Regions from separate parts of the Homo sapiens genome. Here region 1 is linked to region 2. Evidence: fine-mapped expression QTL. A gene starts in region 2. The other region holds a variant in brackets. All regions are shown on one strand. Distances are between the middles of the regions. Region 1 holds the start of LOC124902562 (a long non-coding RNA gene). Region 2 holds the start of PAOX (polyamine oxidase).

The links.
Region 1: its variant is fine-mapped to the expression of PAOX in whole blood (TOPMed, PIP above 0.99).

What each region holds. Positions count from the first base shown.
Region 1 is chr10:133,283,853-133,292,243 of GRCh38, reverse strand. TUBGCP2 (tubulin gamma complex component 2) reads left to right here. Exons shown (of 18, transcript NM_006659.4): 9 at 2,275-2,420; 10 at 3,224-3,404; 11 at 3,935-4,115; 12 at 6,616-6,788; 13 at 7,031-7,159; 14 at 8,242-8,362. It overlaps LOC124902562 (a long non-coding RNA gene), which reads left to right and starts at 197. Exons shown (of 2, transcript XR_007062394.1): 1 at 197-842; 2 at 937-1,411. The variant C/T (reference allele first, on the strand shown) is at 4,227.
Region 2 is chr10:133,374,622-133,382,877 of GRCh38, reverse strand. PAOX (polyamine oxidase) reads right to left here and starts at 3,616. Exons shown (of 7, transcript NM_152911.4): 1 at 3,381-3,616; 2 at 2,393-2,879; 3 at 1,219-1,418. The coding sequence starts at 3,561. It overlaps LOC124902563 (a long non-coding RNA gene), which reads left to right and starts at 3,987. Exons shown (of 2, transcript XR_007062395.1): 1 at 3,987-6,218; 2 at 7,672-8,142. RefSeq lists silencers at 3,281-3,690, 3,791-4,050 and an enhancer at 4,024-4,523.

The DNA of each region.
Region 1 (8,391 bases), 91 kb after region 2:
CCCGTACAGGTAGGGCTCCCCGGGACACGGGGACATGGGGGACACGGAGGGACACGGGGGACACGGAGTGTGCATGCTGCCCTCTCCCGTACAGGTAGGGCTCCCCGGGACACGGGGACATGGGGGACATGGGGGACACGGAGGGACACGGAGGGACACGGAGGGACACGGGGGACACGGAGGGACATGGGGGACACGGAGGGACACGGAGGGACACAGAGGGACATGGGGGACACGGAGGGTGCGTGCTGCCCTCTCCCGTACAGGTAGGGCTCCCCGGGACACGGGGACACGGAGGGACACGGAGGGACATGGGGGACACGGAGGGACATGGGGGACACGGACGGTGCATGCTGCCCTCTCCCGTACAGGTAGGGCTCCCCGGGACACAGGGACACGGAGGGACATGGGGGACACGGAGGGACATGGGGGACACGGAGGGCGCGTGCTGCCCTCTCCCGTACAGGTAGGGCTCCCCGGGACACGGGGACACGGAGGGACACGGGGACACGGAGGGACATGGGGGACACGGACGGTGCATGCTGCCCTCTCCCGTACAGGTAGGGCTCCCCGGGACACGGGGACACGGAGGGACACGGGGACACGGAGGGACATGGGGGACACGGACGGTGCATGCTGCCCTCTCCCGTACAGGTAGGGCTCCCCGGGACACGGGGACACGGAGGGACACGGGGACACGGAGGGACATGGGGGACACGGACGGTGCATGCTGCCCTCTCCCGTACAGGTAGGGCTCCCCGGGACACGGGGACACGGAGGGACACGGGGACACGGAGGGACATGGGGGACACGGACGGTGCATGCTGCCCTCTCCCGTACAGGTAGGGCTCCCCGGGACACGGGGACACGGAGGGACACGGGGACACGGAGGGACATGGGGGACACGGACGGTGCATGCTGCCCTCTCCCGTACAGGTAGGGCTCCCCGGGACACAGGGACACGGAGGGACATGGGGGACACGGAGGGACATGGGGGACACGGAGGGCGCGTGCTGCCCTCTCTGGGGGCTCTGGCCTTCCTTTGCTTGTGGTCTCAGGAAAGCACACCCCGGGCAGATGTCCGCCTGCTGCCCATGGGGCCCAGGGCAGGAATGGCCCAGCTGCTTATGGCCTTATTCTTTTGTGTGCAGGACATTAAATTGCCTCCAATTAGGTCCTTCAACCTCTTTGGTGCTTGGATTTCCTGATCTGGTGGGGTCTGTCGGCTTCTCTTCAGTGCGATATATTTAAATGGATAAAAATATGTTAGTTCCCAAAGAATTGTATTATGTCTATTACGTCAAGATACCGTTGTTGAAATATTTTCAAAAAATACATTAGTGATGTGGAAATGTTATTTCTTTACTAATGGACCAAATAAAATCTGGTATAATGGGCACCTTTAAAGAAAGCACCTTCACACTTGAAGTGCGTAAATGATGTTTGAAGTTGTTCAGATGATGACGTGGAGATGTCTGGTTTCTGTCAATGTTGGCCCCGCCTACCCCACACGAGCATCATTTTGGGTGTCAGGGCCCCACGCACCCCACACGAGCATCATTTTGTTGCCTGGGCTCATCATGGAAGGAAATGCTAAATTCCAAAAAGAGGTGGGTGCAGATAAAGACAAATCAGTTTCCCACCTATCTCTGCGGACCGTACATTCTCCCTGAGCCCAGGTTAAATACTCCGTTCCAGAGCGAGGTTTGTAGGTTTGTTGGTTTTCTTTTTTTTTTTTTTCTTTTTTTTTTTGAGGCAGAGTCTCGCTCCATTGCCAGGCTGGAGTGCAGTGGCATGATCTCGGCTCGCTGCAACCCCCACCTCCCAGGTTCAAGCGATTCCCCTGCCTTAACCTCCCAAGTAGCTGGGACTACAGGTGCACACCACCACGCCCAGCTGATTTTTTGTATTTTAGTAGAGACGGGGTTTCACTGTGTTGGCCAGGATGGTCTTGATCTCTTGACTTCGTGATCTGCCCACCTCAGCCTCCCAAAGTGCTGGGGTTACAGGCGTGAGCCACTGTGCCCGGCCCCTAGGTTCGTTTTAGCCGAGAAGTGTTGGGGTTACAGGCGTGAGCCACCGTGCCCGGCCCCTAGGTTCGTTTTAGCCCACAGTTGAGAAGTAACTGGTAGATTAGGCTCGGCCCTTGTGGAACGTTACTTGGAAGTGTGCTGGCCTCTGTTAATGTCCCTGCGCGCTGCCGGCCTGGAGAAGTGTCGCCTGCCTCAGGCGCCCTTGCTTTGCCTGTGACCGAAGCGCTCCCTGTGGTTTTAGTGAGTTTATGGTCGAGGAGCACGAGCTGCGGAAGGAGAGGATCCAGGAGGATTACAACGACAAGTACTGGGACCAGCGGTACACCATCGTCCAGCAGCAGATCCCGTCCTTCCTGCAGAAAATGGCGGACAAGATCCTCAGCACAGGTGCGGCGCAGCGGGCGGGGACTTGGGGTGCGCAGCACAGCTCTGCCTGGAGAGTCTCCTGCAGCCCAGGCCCTCCCACCGGGAGCCTGTGCCTCACCCTGTGGTTGCCCTGAGCCCTGGTGTCCGTGAATGCGGGGCTGAGGTCAGGACTGGCCCGTGGGCTGGGCTGCGGCGCTGAGTTAGGCCTTGAGATGGTCTCTGTTGCCAGGTTCCCTCAGGTTTCCATCTCCGGGACTCTGTCCCTGACCCTGCGAGGCTCTCTCACAGGTGCCTTCTCTATTTCTGTTTCTGATTTCTAAAACTCCGCTAGCATGTCAGGAAAAACCAGCAAAGACACACGCCTGGCGGCCGGCAGTGTTTCCTATCTCTGACCACACAGGTTAGGGCCTGACCTGGACCCAGGGCAGTGGCGCGGGGACTTGGACTCGGCACATCGGGGCCGTCACGAAAGGGTTGGGAAGCGATTAGCCATCCGGTTCTCATAATGCCTGTTCGAAATTATTTCTGTGCCCTTGGTTAGAAAATTCCAGATGTGCAGAGCCACGGCAAAGCCCTGCCACCACCAGCTCAGTCTGTAGCCGCTGACAGTGATTTACCGGGAAGGAGCAAGGGTGTGGAGCCGCCTCATGCAGCCCAGTTTCCATTCCACTGCCTTCTGTGTAGACAAAGACAGCTGGGGCCTCAGACTGACCGTGTGGAGAGCCCATTCAATGTCCATTCCACTGCCTCCTGTGTAGACAAAGACAGCTGGGGCCTGAGATCGACCATGTGGAGAATAAAATTTTGAATTTCTGTGTTTTCAGGAAAATATCTAAATGTGGTCAGAGAGTGTGGCCATGACGTCACCTGCCCGGTGGCTAAAGAGATCATCTACACGTTAAAAGAGCGGGCGTATGTGGAGCAGATCGAGAAGGCGTTTAACTACGCCAGCAAGGTGCTGCTGGACTTCCTGATGGAGGAGAAGGAGCTGGTGGCTCACCTCAGGTGATTCCGTGCCCTGTCCCTGTGCGGGCACTCACCTCCCTCTGAAACCGGAACCTGTGGGACGTGGGGCTGAGATCGCTGGGTTTCTTCTGGCAGCTCCGCCTTGTCTTTTTGAAAGTGGGCACTGCTGGATGGTCTCTAGCTCAAGGACCTGGCACTCACAGTGGGTGGTGTAGGCCCCCGGTCACCTTGTCCAGGGGCCCCAGCTCCCCTCCTTGCCCAGGGCCCACCAGCCCCTTCTCAGCTCCTCCTGCCACAGCTTGCGTGGTGGTTGCACAGCCCCTGCCTGAGAGCCAAGCGCTTAGCCTGTTGTAGTGTGTTTTAGGGTGATGGCTATGGCGAGCATCTGTGGGTGGGCACGTGCTCACGCCTGCTCCCTGGCCGTGGCGGGCACCTGCGGGTGGGCACGTGCTCACGCCTGCTCCCTGGCTGTGGCGGGCACCTGCGGGTGGGCACGTGCTCACGCCTGCTCCCTGGCTGTGGCGGGCACCTGCGGGTGGGCACCTGCTCACGCCTGCTCCCTGGCGCAGGTCCATCAAGCGCTACTTCCTCATGGACCAGGGCGACTTCTTCGTGCACTTCATGGACCTCGCGGAGGAGGAGCTCCGGAAGCCGGTGGAGGACATCACGCCCCCTCGCCTGGAAGCGCTCCTGGAGCTGGCGCTGCGCATGAGCACGGCCAACACTGACCCCTTCAAGGACGACCTCAAGGTGGGTGGGGGTGCCGGGGGCTGTCCCCTGTGGCAGAGGCCTCGGAGGGGCTGGGAGGAGAGCACAGCAGAGGCCAGCCCTGTCCCCCACTCCCCGTCCCGGTGAGGCGAC[C/T]GCAGGGTCTGTTTCCTTCACTTGGCTACCGGGGCCGGCTTGCCGGGATCGGGGGTCTTTGTGCCTGTGCTCTGGAGGGGCGCGGGTCTCGGGTTTTCCTGCAGTGCCCTCGTCCGGGCCTGGCTTTCAGGTCATGCTGGCCTTGTGGAATTGTTTTCACGTGTCCCTCCATCTGTCTTTTGAAAGGGTTTCAGGTCTTTTGAAAGGGTTTCAGGAGTGGTGTTAATTCTTTTTGTTTTTGCCTTTTTGTTGTCGTTGTTTTTTGTTTTTTTTTTTGAGACGGAGTTTTGCTCTTGTCACCCAGGCTGGAGTGCAGTGGCATGATCTCAGCTCACTGCAGCCTCCACCTCCTGGGTTCAAGTGATGCTCTACCTCAGCCTCCCGAGTAGCTGGGATTACAGGTGCGCGCCACCACGCCCAGCTAATTTTTGTATTTTTAGTAGAGATGGGGTTTCACCATGTTTCCCAGGCTGGTCTTGAACTCTTGACCTCAGGTGATCCACCCACCTTGGCCTCCCAAAGTGCTGGGATTACAGGCATGAGCCACCGTGCCCAGCCGTTTTTTAAAATATATATATGTTTTATCTGTTTTTTACTATTTTTAATAGAGACGGGGGTCTGTGTTGCCCAGGCTGGTTGAACCCCTGGGCTCAAGCGATCCTTCACCTGCGCCTCCCCAGGAGGGTGTTGATTCTTTGGCTGTTTGGCAGGGTTTGCCTGGGAGCTCTTGGGCCCTGGGTTTGTCTTTGTTGGAGACTTTTGAGGGGGACTTGGCCCCTTGCTGGCCACAGGTCTGCTCAGTCCCTTTCCTCTTGGTCGGCTGTCTGTCTCGCATCTTGTCTGGTGCACAGTTCATGGGTTTCTAGTATCTGCTTTTTATTTCTGTAAGATTAGTAGTTATATCCCTTCTTTTTCTGATTTTAGTAATTTGAATCTTCTTTCGTCTTAGCTGATGTAGCTAGAAATTTGTCGATTTCATTATCTTTTCAAAGAACCAACTCTTGGGTTTGTTGACTGTATTTTTCTGTTTTCTCTCTTCTGTCATCTTTGTTACTCCTGTCTGCTGCTTAGGGGTTCAGTGTGGTCTTCTTTTTTCTAGTTTCTTAATTTGAAAAGTTAGTTTACAGCTGTAAACATCCCTCCGAGTGCAGCCTTCGCTGATCCCCTAGCGTCATAATTTCTGTTTGTCTGGAGGTGTTTCTGATTCCCTCTGATTTCTTGTTGGAGCCGTGGGTGGTTTATGTTTAACTTCCACATGTTTGTGAAGTTTCTGGTTTTCCTTCTGTTGCTTGTTTCTAACTTTATCTCCTTGTTAGAGAACAGACTTTTTGTGATTTCAGTTTTGTGAAATGTATTGATTTGTGTAGTGGCCCCACATCCATCCTGGAGAGTGTTCCGTGCGCGCGGGAGGAGGATGTGCCCTCGGTTCCGTGCGCGCGGGAGGAGGACGCGCCCTCGGTGCTGTTGGGGTGGTGTTCTGCAGGTGGGTTGAGGCCGTGTCTTTCCTCACTGATCGTCTGTCCGGCGGTTCTCTCCGTGGTTAGAAGTAGGGCACCGAGTCTCCCTGTCACTGAAGAACTGCTTTTCTCCTTGTCATTCTGTCTATTCTTGATTCAGATATTTTGGGGTCTCTTGTTAGGAGCAGGAATATTTTCGTAGGAAAAATTCCTGGTAGTGAAATTGTTGGGTCACAATACATGGCCCTTGTATGACTAGGCTGACCTTGCTGGAGTTGATGGAGTCCAGTCTCAGGACGCTGCTGTCTGCACACCTGCGAAAGCTCCCACCTTGGCTATTTGATGGACAAGTGATGTCAGGGGCTCATTTCTGCGTTTGTGATGGTCACGATTTCGTCTGTCCGCTGCTTGTTTCTTCTTGCTTTATCCCCTGCCCTTCATTTCCTGTCCTGTCGTTGTGCGATGGTTTTGTAGGAACTCTGTTGCGGGTGGTTGGAACTTAGCAAATACTCGAGTGATTAACGTGAGGACAGTATTACTTGCTTATAATAACTATTATGTCCCTCGTCAAATATGCTTCATTTTTCAACCTGGGCCTGGTGCTTATCATGGTACAAAGGTTTTCGTCCTAAGGAATCACGTTTCTTTCACCGTCCTTAGCGGTTTTTCCCTTATACCACCCACAGCAGCAGTGGGTATTTACAAAGTAATTCATCTGAATTTTTGTTGTTTTGTTCTGATGGGAAGTGGTTCAGTTTTGAATTTGATTTATCAGTAGATGTTTGGGTTTTTGAAAAGCCTCTGATATTTAGAATCGGAATGTAGGGAACCTTACGTCAGCGCTGGGTCTGTGAGCGAGGATGGCGATCGGGATGCGACTTCGGGTCTTTTCCTTAAAACTGGATGCTTTGTTTCATTTCCTTCCCTCCAAGATCGACCTGATGCCCCATGACCTCATCACTCAGCTCTTGCGCGTCCTGGCCATCGAGACCAAGCAGGAGAAGGCGATGGCGCACGCCGACCCCACGGAGCTGGCGCTGAGCGGCCTGGAGGCCTTCTCTTTCGACTACATCGTCAAGTGGCCCCTTTCGCTCATCATCAACAGGTGCGGGTCGGCTGCTCGGGCACCTGCCAGATCTTCACTCAGGTTTGGCAGAAGCGAGAACTGTGCCACGCGGTGGCCACCTCGTCCCACAGAGGACCCAAGGCGGCTCTCCCCGGCCTTCAGTGTCCGAGAGATTCACGGGCTGTCCGGGGGCCACGGTGCGGACTGTGGAGTACAGACGCCGTGTCCACGACGCCGCCGGTCACGGAGGCCCACCTGAGGTGCCGCCACGTCTCTTGCAGGAAAGCCCTCACTCGCTACCAGATGCTCTTCAGGCACATGTTCTACTGCAAGCACGTGGAGCGGCAGCTCTGCAGCGTCTGGATCAGCAACAAAACCGCCAAGCAGCACTCGCTGCACTCCGCCCAGTGGTGCGTTCTTCCTCTGCCCCCGCATGCCCTCCTGAAGCAGCGCTCGCTGCACTCTGCCCAGTGGTGCAGCGCCCCCCTTGTGCCCTCCTGGTAGACAGCTTTCTAGGCTTCTGGAAGTGTCATCTGGAAGCGCACGTTGGTGGCTTTAGATCCATAATGCTTCATTGCTTCATTTTCCTGTCTTGGGGCTGCACGGCGCTGCCGTCCACCCCACAGGGGATGCTGGCTCTGTCCCTCAGCCCTCTCTGGAGCCTTGTGGTGACTGCACGGGCATGGAGACTGCCCAGGTCGGTGTGCAGGACACTAGCTCCTCCCGAGAGCGGACAGCCACATCTTGCTGGGACCAGAGGTGCTTTGCAGCCGGTCTGTGCCTCTAGGGTGTTGAAAAAAGGGGTCGATGGCAGAGCTTCATAAGAATTTGTCCAGTCGGGTGCAGTGGCTCATGCCTGTAATCTCAGCACTTTGGGAAGCTGAGGAGGGAGGATTGTTTGAGCCCACAAGTTCGAGACCCGCCTGGACAATGTAACAAGAGCTCATCTCTTAAAAAAAAAGAAAATTATTTTAATTAGCCGGGAATGCCTGTAGTTCCAGCAACTCAGGAGGCTGAGGTGGGAGGGTTGCTTGAGTCCAGGAGGTCAAGGCTGCAGTGAGCCAAGATCGTGCCACTGCACTGCAGTCTGAGCGACAGCAAGACCCTGTCTCTCGAAGAAAAAAAGAAATTAGAAGAAAAAGAACTCATCTTGATGATGAAGCACAAATATGCATCTGTTGTGTGGCACTTTCCTGGCGTGGGCTCCGAGGGGTCCGTCCACCAAGGAGCCCGCGTCCCAGTCTCCACCGTCCAGCTGGCTGGGGGTGTCCCTGCAGGGCACAGGTTGGTAGACGGTGACAGCTTGTGCTGGGCAGACGCAGGAGCAGCGGCCGTGAGTGTCTGGTGTGCTGGGAGGGGCGCTTGCTCTGCAGAGGAAATAGCCACGTCCAGAGAACGTCCTCCATGGCTGTCCTCCGTCCTCCGTGTCACTTGGTGGGCGCTGTCGGGGCCGCGTCCTCCATGGCTGTCCTCCGTCCTCCGTGTCACTCAGGTTTGCTGGGGCTTTCACTCTGCGGCAGCGAATGCTCAACTTCGTCCAGAATATTCAATACTACATGATGTTTGAAGTGATGGAACCGACCTGGCACATCCTGGAGAAAAACCTGAAATCCGTGAGTTTTAGCTCCACAGATAATAACGT
Region 2 (8,256 bases):
TGCTGATTTGGAAACACTGACAAGTTCTATTAAGAAAAAAACAAAAAACAAAAACAGGCAAACTGAGCAGCAGATTTTTGGTTTTTTTTTTTTTCTGAGACAGAGTCTCACTCTGTCACCCAGGCTGGAGTGCAATGACACCATCTCGGCTCACTGTGACCTCTGCCTCCCCCGTTCAAGCGATTCTCCTGCCTCAGCCTCCCAAGTAGCTGGAATTACAGGTGCCTGCCACCATGCCCAGCTAATTTTTGGATTTTTAGTAGAGACAGGGTTTCATCATGTTGACCAGGCTGGTCTCGAACTCCTGACCTCAGGTGATCCGCCTGCCTCAGCTTCCCAAAGGGCTGGGATTACAAGCGTGAGCCACCGTGCCCAGCCAGCAGCAGATGTTCATGTGTGGACGACGACTGCATCTCTGGGAAACAGCAATGGGGTCTCAGTGCTCATCCCTGCCCCGGGGAGGGCAAAGCCACCCCTTGGAGACAGGAGTTAGGGCTGCGGAGGCTCCTGCTTTTCATCACACACCTGTCAATCACACCTAGATTTCCAAGTGAGTGCTGGCAATCGCTAGCTTTGTGAACTTGGGCAATTAAGTGACTTCTCTCTACTTGCCTAGATGTTCAAATCTGTCATATGTGGGACAATGACAGACACCTCCCAAGGCTGCCTGAGTCAATGAGATAACTCAGGCAGAGACCCACGGCAGCGTGAAACCCGTGGGAAGCAAATGTCCAGTTGACAGCAATTATCCTAGTAACTCTGTTTTCAACCATCTCCACCTTTTATAAAACAGCTTCAAACCACCTCTACTCAAGGACAGATCTAAAGCACCAGATCTAGAATTAAACAGAATTATACACACGGCTCCTTCAACAGGTCACCCCAGGCCTGACCTTCAGACCAGGCCTTTCATGCCTTTTCCTGTCTGCAGCAAAGTGCGGTGTGGTTAATCTCCAAGGCCGTCGCAACCCTAAACGGTTACCTCCAAGCGAGCAGGACGCATACTTACTCGCGTTTTTTCTTACGGTGAAACCCTTAATTCCAAAGCATGTAATTGCTACAAAACATAACAGAATCATTCCTTCCACCTATCTGGAACTTACTAGAACGAAAATGTGAGCTTCGTACACAAGCAAACGCCCCAGAGCCAACTGAGGCAGGGTAAGGGCAGAGGCGGGGGCACTTGGGATGGGGGTTTGGGCTGAAAACCTGACCTACCTAAGGGCACGGTGACGATGACATGGTGCGCCGGGAACCGGTCTCCATCCTCACACTCTACCGACACTGGAAAGGTCTCCCCGGGAAAGGCTGCCTCCTGGAAGGACCCGTTCCAGTGGATGGTCTTCACAGGCTTCTCAAAAACTACAGTGTCCTCCGGCAGGGCGGCCATCATGCAGTTTGTGAGTCCTTGATAGCCCCTAGAAAGACGGAAGTGCTGGTTTCGTAGAGGCCCAGTCCCTGGAAGGGCAGGACTGGTGGAAATACGTGCTCTGAGTTCCCACCCGCATCAAAGGTAGCTGCGGGGAGCTCTCCATCGCTCAGGGCCAGCAAGGAGGTCAGCTCCACTCTGTGGTTTTCCACCTCAAGGATGCTCATACCTGCCCTCCAGGCTGTAAGGGAGGGTTCAGTGGGCACAGAGCACTCAAGGCAATCTGCCGGAACCAGGGCTTCCTCCTTACCACCACAGAGTTCCTGACTCACAAATGCCCATTGCCTGGCCAGGAGCCTTGGGGCCAACACCAGGGGTGACGGGACAGCCCGAGGAGGGTCTCATCTGCACCTGGTACCTGGCAGCCACCCTGCCACAGGGAGAGGGCCTGTCTGGCCCCCTCTGCAGTTGAAGCCCCTCATAAATACAGGAGCAAGAGAAGTCTTTACTCTTCTTCTTTTTTTCTCTTTTGAGATGGAGTCTCACTCTGTCGCCCAGGTTGGAGTGCAATGGCGCAGTCTTGGCTCACTGCAACCTCCGCCTCCCAGGTTCAAGCAATTCTCCTGCCTCAGCCTCCCGAGTAGCTGGGATTACAGGCATGCACCATCACGCCCGGCTAATTTTTGTATTTTTAGTAGAGATGGGATTTCACCATGTTGGCCAGGCTGTTCTTGAACTCCTGACCTCATGATCCACCTGCCTCAGCCTCCCAAAGTGCTGGGATTACAGGCGTGAGCCACCGCACTCAGCCTTACCTTTCCTTCTTTTAAACACTCTCTCTCAGAAATAACTTTTTTGGCTTAAATGAGCAAAACTAGGGAAAGGAGCAACCAGTCTGTCGGAATGGGGAGGACAAATGGTCTCCTGTCCCTCCCATACCCAAGCAAGAGCGGAGCTCAGCCAGCCCCGGTGCCCTGGGGAGCCTGGTGGGAGGACTGGCGGGGCAGGGGCTCAGGCACGCACTTAGAAAAGGTGCAGTCCAGCCCCGGCAGCACGGTATACTCCCCAAAGGGTGCCAGGGCCACCAGGTCCATGCTGTGGGTGCCGCTCACACAGCATTCCAGGTTGAAGAAGGAGTTCAGGACGGCCAGCTTCAGCTTCCTGGTCTCCTCATCCTCTGTCCAGCCGGCCACGTGCTGGCCAATCTCCTTCTTGAGGTACTCCCCGACGCTGGGCACCGGGGTCTCTGCAGCGTGCAGGAACTCCCGGGTCTGGTCTATCAGGCCGTAGAACAGAGTCGCCATCTCCGCCACCAGCTGGAGGCTCACGCTGGCCCCGGAGCTGGCGTAGCTCACGGAGGGCAGGCCCACGTGACCCCCGGTCTCCACCAGCTGGTTCTCCTGGGACAGCTCCTTCTCCCCCAGCAGCCCGTACTCAGCAGCCAGCTGGAAGACGGGGTTACCCCGGGAGGGCCCATGGATCCAGTGCGCGCCCACCTCCACCACGCCACCTGCGAGGGGACAGCAGATGCCACCTGGAGGTCCCTTTCCTAGAAGGGTCACCCCGAGCCCTTCTCCTGGGCCACGCCCACGCTGGCCTTCCCAAGGAGGATGTACCACACTGTCCCCAAGGGCCCTGTGGTCCCCCAGGGCAGGGCCCTGTCAGACCCAGTTTAAGGGGAGCACCTGGGCAGGAGGGCACTTGTCGGGCGGTGTGGACCAGAGGGAGGGGCGCAGGGTGGGCGTACCCCGGGGCTGGGGGGGCCCCCGTGGGGCAGAATCAGGGCGGCCTTGTGGAGCCGTAGGTCGCCTTCCCTGGCCGGCGCCCTCCTGACTAACTCTGAGCCCTGAGTTTCGGGGCGGTGAACTCTGGCGGATTAAGCGAGCGGGGATTCCCTCGGGGAGCCCGGTGAGGCGGCCGGGCAGGTCGGCTGCGCGCAGGGCAGGTTGGGGCCGGCGAGTTCGGGCGCAGCCGGTTGGGTTCCGGGAGGGGCTCCGGGAGGGGCGGTTACCGAAGCAGCGCTCCGAGCGGATGCGGCCCCCGGCGCGGGCCGTGGCCTCCAGGACCCGCAGGTGCGGGAAGGCGGAGTGGCCGCAGAGCCTCTGCGCCGCGCCCAGCCCCGCGATGCCGCCGCCCACCACCAGCACCCGGGGTCCGCCCGGGGCCTCCCCGACGCTGCCGGTCGACTCCATCGCGCGGTCCGGGCAGTCCGAGGGCTTCTGAGTAGCCGGGAGGTCTGGAGCTCTCGGAGGAGGCCGGAGGCGGAGCGAGGGGGCGGGGAGGCGCTGGGAGGGGCGGGGAGGGGCGGGGAGGCGCGGGGAGGCGCGGGGAGGGGCGGGGAGGGGCGGGGAGGGGCGGGGAGGCGCGGGGAGGGGCGGGGAGGCGCGGGGAGGGGCGGGGAGGCGCGGGGAGGCGCGGGGAGGCGCGGGGAGGCGCGGGGAGGGGCGGGGAGGGGCGGGGAGGGGCGGGGAAGGGGCCGGGCCGAGCCCCACAGTGCGCCTCGGCCTCCGCGAGCCTCCGGACTGGGCTCGGGTCTCAGAGGGAAGCGCCCCGCGTGGGAGGGCCCGCGAGGACAGGCGTCAGGGAGCGTCCCGCGCTGCCGGGCGGTGCGCGCGAGCGTCCCCATGGAGGGAGAAGCCGGCCGGCCGGGCGGGCCAGTGTCTCCTCCAAGGGAGACGAGGGCGCAGCGAGCGCTTCCCCCAGGGACCCGCGTCGAGTGCGAGGGCGCAGTGGGTCTGGGGGTGCCACGGTGTCAGGGGTGGGACCTGGGAGAGCTTAACGCGTCCGGAGGGGGGCTGTGAAAGCCTCCAGCATCGCCAGCGAGCCGTCAGTTCGCGTGTGCGCGCGCCTGCGTGTGCGCGTGTAGTCACAGGGCTGCAGGGACACAGGACCAAAGTACAAAGTACACTCGCAAAGTACAAAGTTCAGAAGCCGAGGGCAAGTGCAGAAACGTCCCTCGCCCGGGAAGTTGAGCGCACACCCAGGCACGCCTGTGTTTCTGGAGAATCCCCGGTGCAGGCGGCCGAGTTTTCTGCTGCATCGCAGCCCGCGGGGGTTGGAAAGGCTCCCGCCCTGTTTTCAGGCGCGTCCCCGCCTCCTGAGCCCCGGTCCTCTGCCGAGGGGCCGCGCGCTCCAGTTTGCCAGCGTGAGCTTCACTCTTCGCTCTCGGCGTGGGCCTCCTGAGCCGTGTCTTACTTTCCTTTGATTCCCTCTCGTCCCAGCTGGAGAAAAGGCTCCCGGAAGGGTGACCTGGTGTCGCTGGATTCCACTCCCCATCACTCCCTAGCCAACCCCGCGAGCTGAGCTCCAGGCAGGGAGAGGGGCGGGTGCCTGGGAGTCGGGCTGACTCCCTGGGCGGTGGCGGGCAGGGGTCGAGCGTCCTCTGTCCGTCAGGGGCCCGCAGCACCAGGAGGCGACGCTGGATGCAGTGGCCATCTCCTCCTGCCTCCAGGCCATGGGGAACCCAGGGCGGATCCCGGGTCAGCAGGGCCAGCTGTCCACCAAGCTGACCCACCCGACATGCCAGGACTAAGGAAAGAAGGGCTGCCCCACACCCTTAGTCGGATGGCAAGTGTTTGGGGTGCAGCCCCCGCCACGAGTGTCACCTGTTCTGCCTGAGCAGGCTTCTCTCTTACTCCCTGCTCTTGGGCCTGAAGCAGAGCCGCTGGCTCAGTGGGGCGCTCCATTCTGAGGTCCCTGGCATGCACCACGGAAGCCCAGCGGGACCACCCACCCACCTGCCCCAGCTCCCCAGCGGAGGTCCTGAGATGGCAGATTAAATACTCTGGGGTTCTGAATTCCACAGATGAACTGGGTCCCCCACGGGTATGGCCAAGGGAACGGCCCACTCCCTAGTGGCTCCGTGTGAAATCGAGCTGCTGCTGCTCTCGCCGCAGGGCCCAGCTCACTGCCCAGACATAGGAGCACATCGCCCTGCGCACAGGCTGGGTGGGCACAGCTGTGAGGGAGGCCACCCCATGCCTCAGGCCTCCTGCACAGGCGTGGGCCTCGCCACTCTGGGTGGACAGGCTACTTTGGCCCCTCAGCCTCTGGGGACTGCTGCCCTGTTTTCAGCACCGTGTCAGGCACCATCTGGTCAGCCAGCTCCTCCAGCCCCGAGACTCCCGTGTCCTCATTCTCCTGGGCCGTTACGGTCGGCCAGTGCCCAGCCTTTGCTGGAAGGCTGTCCAGGCTGGGCTCTGGTCAGGCATCGATGTCCCCCAGGCACCTGGCCTCACCTCGCGTTGGGACAGCCTCTGCAAGATGGAACAGGAAGGGTCTGGCTTTGCCTCTGTCACCTTCTCCCGGTCCATCATGTCCTCCTGGCCAGCCCGTTCCTGGTTCCTGCGGGGAGCCCAGCCCGAAGGGGAACCGAAAGATTCTAACTTAACTCTAGTTCAGCCTCCCGGATCCTCCTGTGGAGCGGCAGGATCCCATAAAAGATACTTGGCTCAGCAACTTGCTGGCCAAGCCTCCCCACAGCGGTCCACACAGGCCAGAGGTAAACATGCCCATGCCCCACACCTGGAAGGCCTGGTGCAAGGAGGGGTGATTGTAGTGACTGAAATGGGAACTCTGGCTTTATGGCGCGGAGAGAGAAGACATGGACCCAAGAGCTGCAGGGTGGGGACAACCGACGCGCTCTTTGTCCCCTGGATGTGGTGCCACAGCCTGAATCCAATAGCACGGGCCGCTGACGCGCTGACCTGGGGCTGGGTTAGTCGCTCGTCCCCCTTGCTCTGAAATGGAGAGTGCACGTGACCACGGCCAGTCCTGGACAATCCTGCCATGCCAGAGCCACCAGCTGGAACACACGGACACAACCTCTTTTCCATCTGACTGGTACAAGGTATGTGCTTCTCCTAGCTCCAGAGGGCCTTGGGTGATGCCACCTATGGTGATCAAGGTGGCAACTACCCATGTGGCTTTGACTGAATCAGGCTTGTTCATTTTTTAAAATAGCTTTATTGATATAGACATCATGCTGTAAGACTTCTCCCGTTTAAAGTGTTCAATTCAATGGTGTTCAGTTTAGTTACAGAGTTGTGCCACTGTCACCATCATCCAGTTTAGAACTTTTTTGTTTTGTTTTGTTTTTTTGAGATGGAGTCTTGCTCTGTTGCCCAGGCTGGAGTGCAGTGACACTACCTTGGCTCACTGCAACCTCTGCCTTCCAAGTTCAAGCAATTCTCCTGCCTCAGCCTCCTGAGTAGCTGGGATTATAGGCATGTGCCACTACGCCCGGCTAATTTTTGTATTTTTAGTAGAGACGGAGTTTCACCATGTTGGACCAGGCTGGTCTCGAACACCTGACCTCAGGTGATCCACCTGCCTTGGCCTCCCAAAGTGCTGGGATTACAGGCGTGAACCACTGCGCCTGGCCCCAAGTTTAGGACATTTTCATCACCCTAAAAAGCAAATGGGGATGCCCCTCAGCAGTCCCCCCCATTACCCCTCCCTCCAGCCCCTGGTGACCGCTAATCTAGTTTCTGTCTCTGTGGATTTGCCTGTTCTGTACATTTCATAGAAATGGAACCTATTCAATGCACGGCCTTTGTGTCTGGCTTTTTTTACTGAGCATAACATTTCCAAGGCTTGTCCATTTTGTAATGTGTATCAGCGCTTCTTTCTTTTTTACTCCTGAATAGAGTCCATTGTATAGTCTAATACATTCTAATGTATCCATTGTTTGGATATATGACATTTTGTTTATCCATTCATGAGTTGATGGACAATTGGCTTTTTCCCTCTTTTTGGCTATTATGAATAATGTTGCTATGAACGTTCATGTCTAAGTTTTTGTGGACATTTGTCTTCATTTCTCTGAGGTGTACACCTAAGAGTGGAGTTGCTGTTTGACCTTTTGAGGAAACAACAGACTGTTTTCCAAAGTGACTGCACCATTTTCCATTCCCGCTGGCAGTGTACCAGCGTTCCCCGCTCACGTCCCCCACAACCCGCTGTGACTGTTGGGCTTTTTATTGCAGCCAGCACAGTAGGTGTGACGTCGTATCACTGAGGGGTCAGTTTGCATTTCCCTAATGATTCGTGATGCTGAGCTTATCTGACACTGATTATCTTCATTGGAGGAATGTCTGTTCAGTCCTCTCACTATCTTGGTAGTGTCCTTTCAGACATAAAAGTTTTAAATTTTGGTGAAATCCAATTTACATATGTTCTCCCTTTGTTGCTTGTGCTTTTGTGGCTACATTACTTGATGGAGGACGGGAGCTGCCCGGCCTCCTGGGTCGTTAGAAAGGAAACCTCTTGGCGGACACGGTGGTCCACTCCTGTAATTCCAGCACTTTGCGAGGCCGAGACCGGTGGATCACTTGAGGTCAGGAGTTCGAGAACAGCCTGGCCAACATGGCAAAACTCCCGACTCTACTAAAAAACTACAAATATTAGCCGGGCATGGTGGTAAGCACCCGTAGTTCCAGCTACTCAGGAGGCTGAGGCAGGAGAATCGCTTGAACCCGGGAGGCGCAAGCTATGATGAGCCGGGATGACACCACTGCACTCCAGCCTGGGTGACAGCGAGACAAGAAAGAAAGGAAAGAAGAGAAGGTGAAGGAGAAGGAAGGAAGGAAATAAACCTCTTTTCTGTCTGAGCCATTTCATTTTGGGCCTGTCTGTCCCAGAGGTTTAACTACACTAGTATAGAGCATCGTTTACTAAAGGTTTGTTGAGGTTTGTTGTTGATTTGTTTCTACTTACACGAGATGTCTTCATTTTTACCCTCGGTCTTGAAATAAAATTTTGGTGCATGTTCATTTTTGGTTTGAATTGAATTATTTTCTTGAACATAGTGAGGCAGGAGAACAGGGTCTGGAGGCCAATTCATGCTGACTCCCTAGAACTAAATCAAATGGAAACACTTCCGCTAT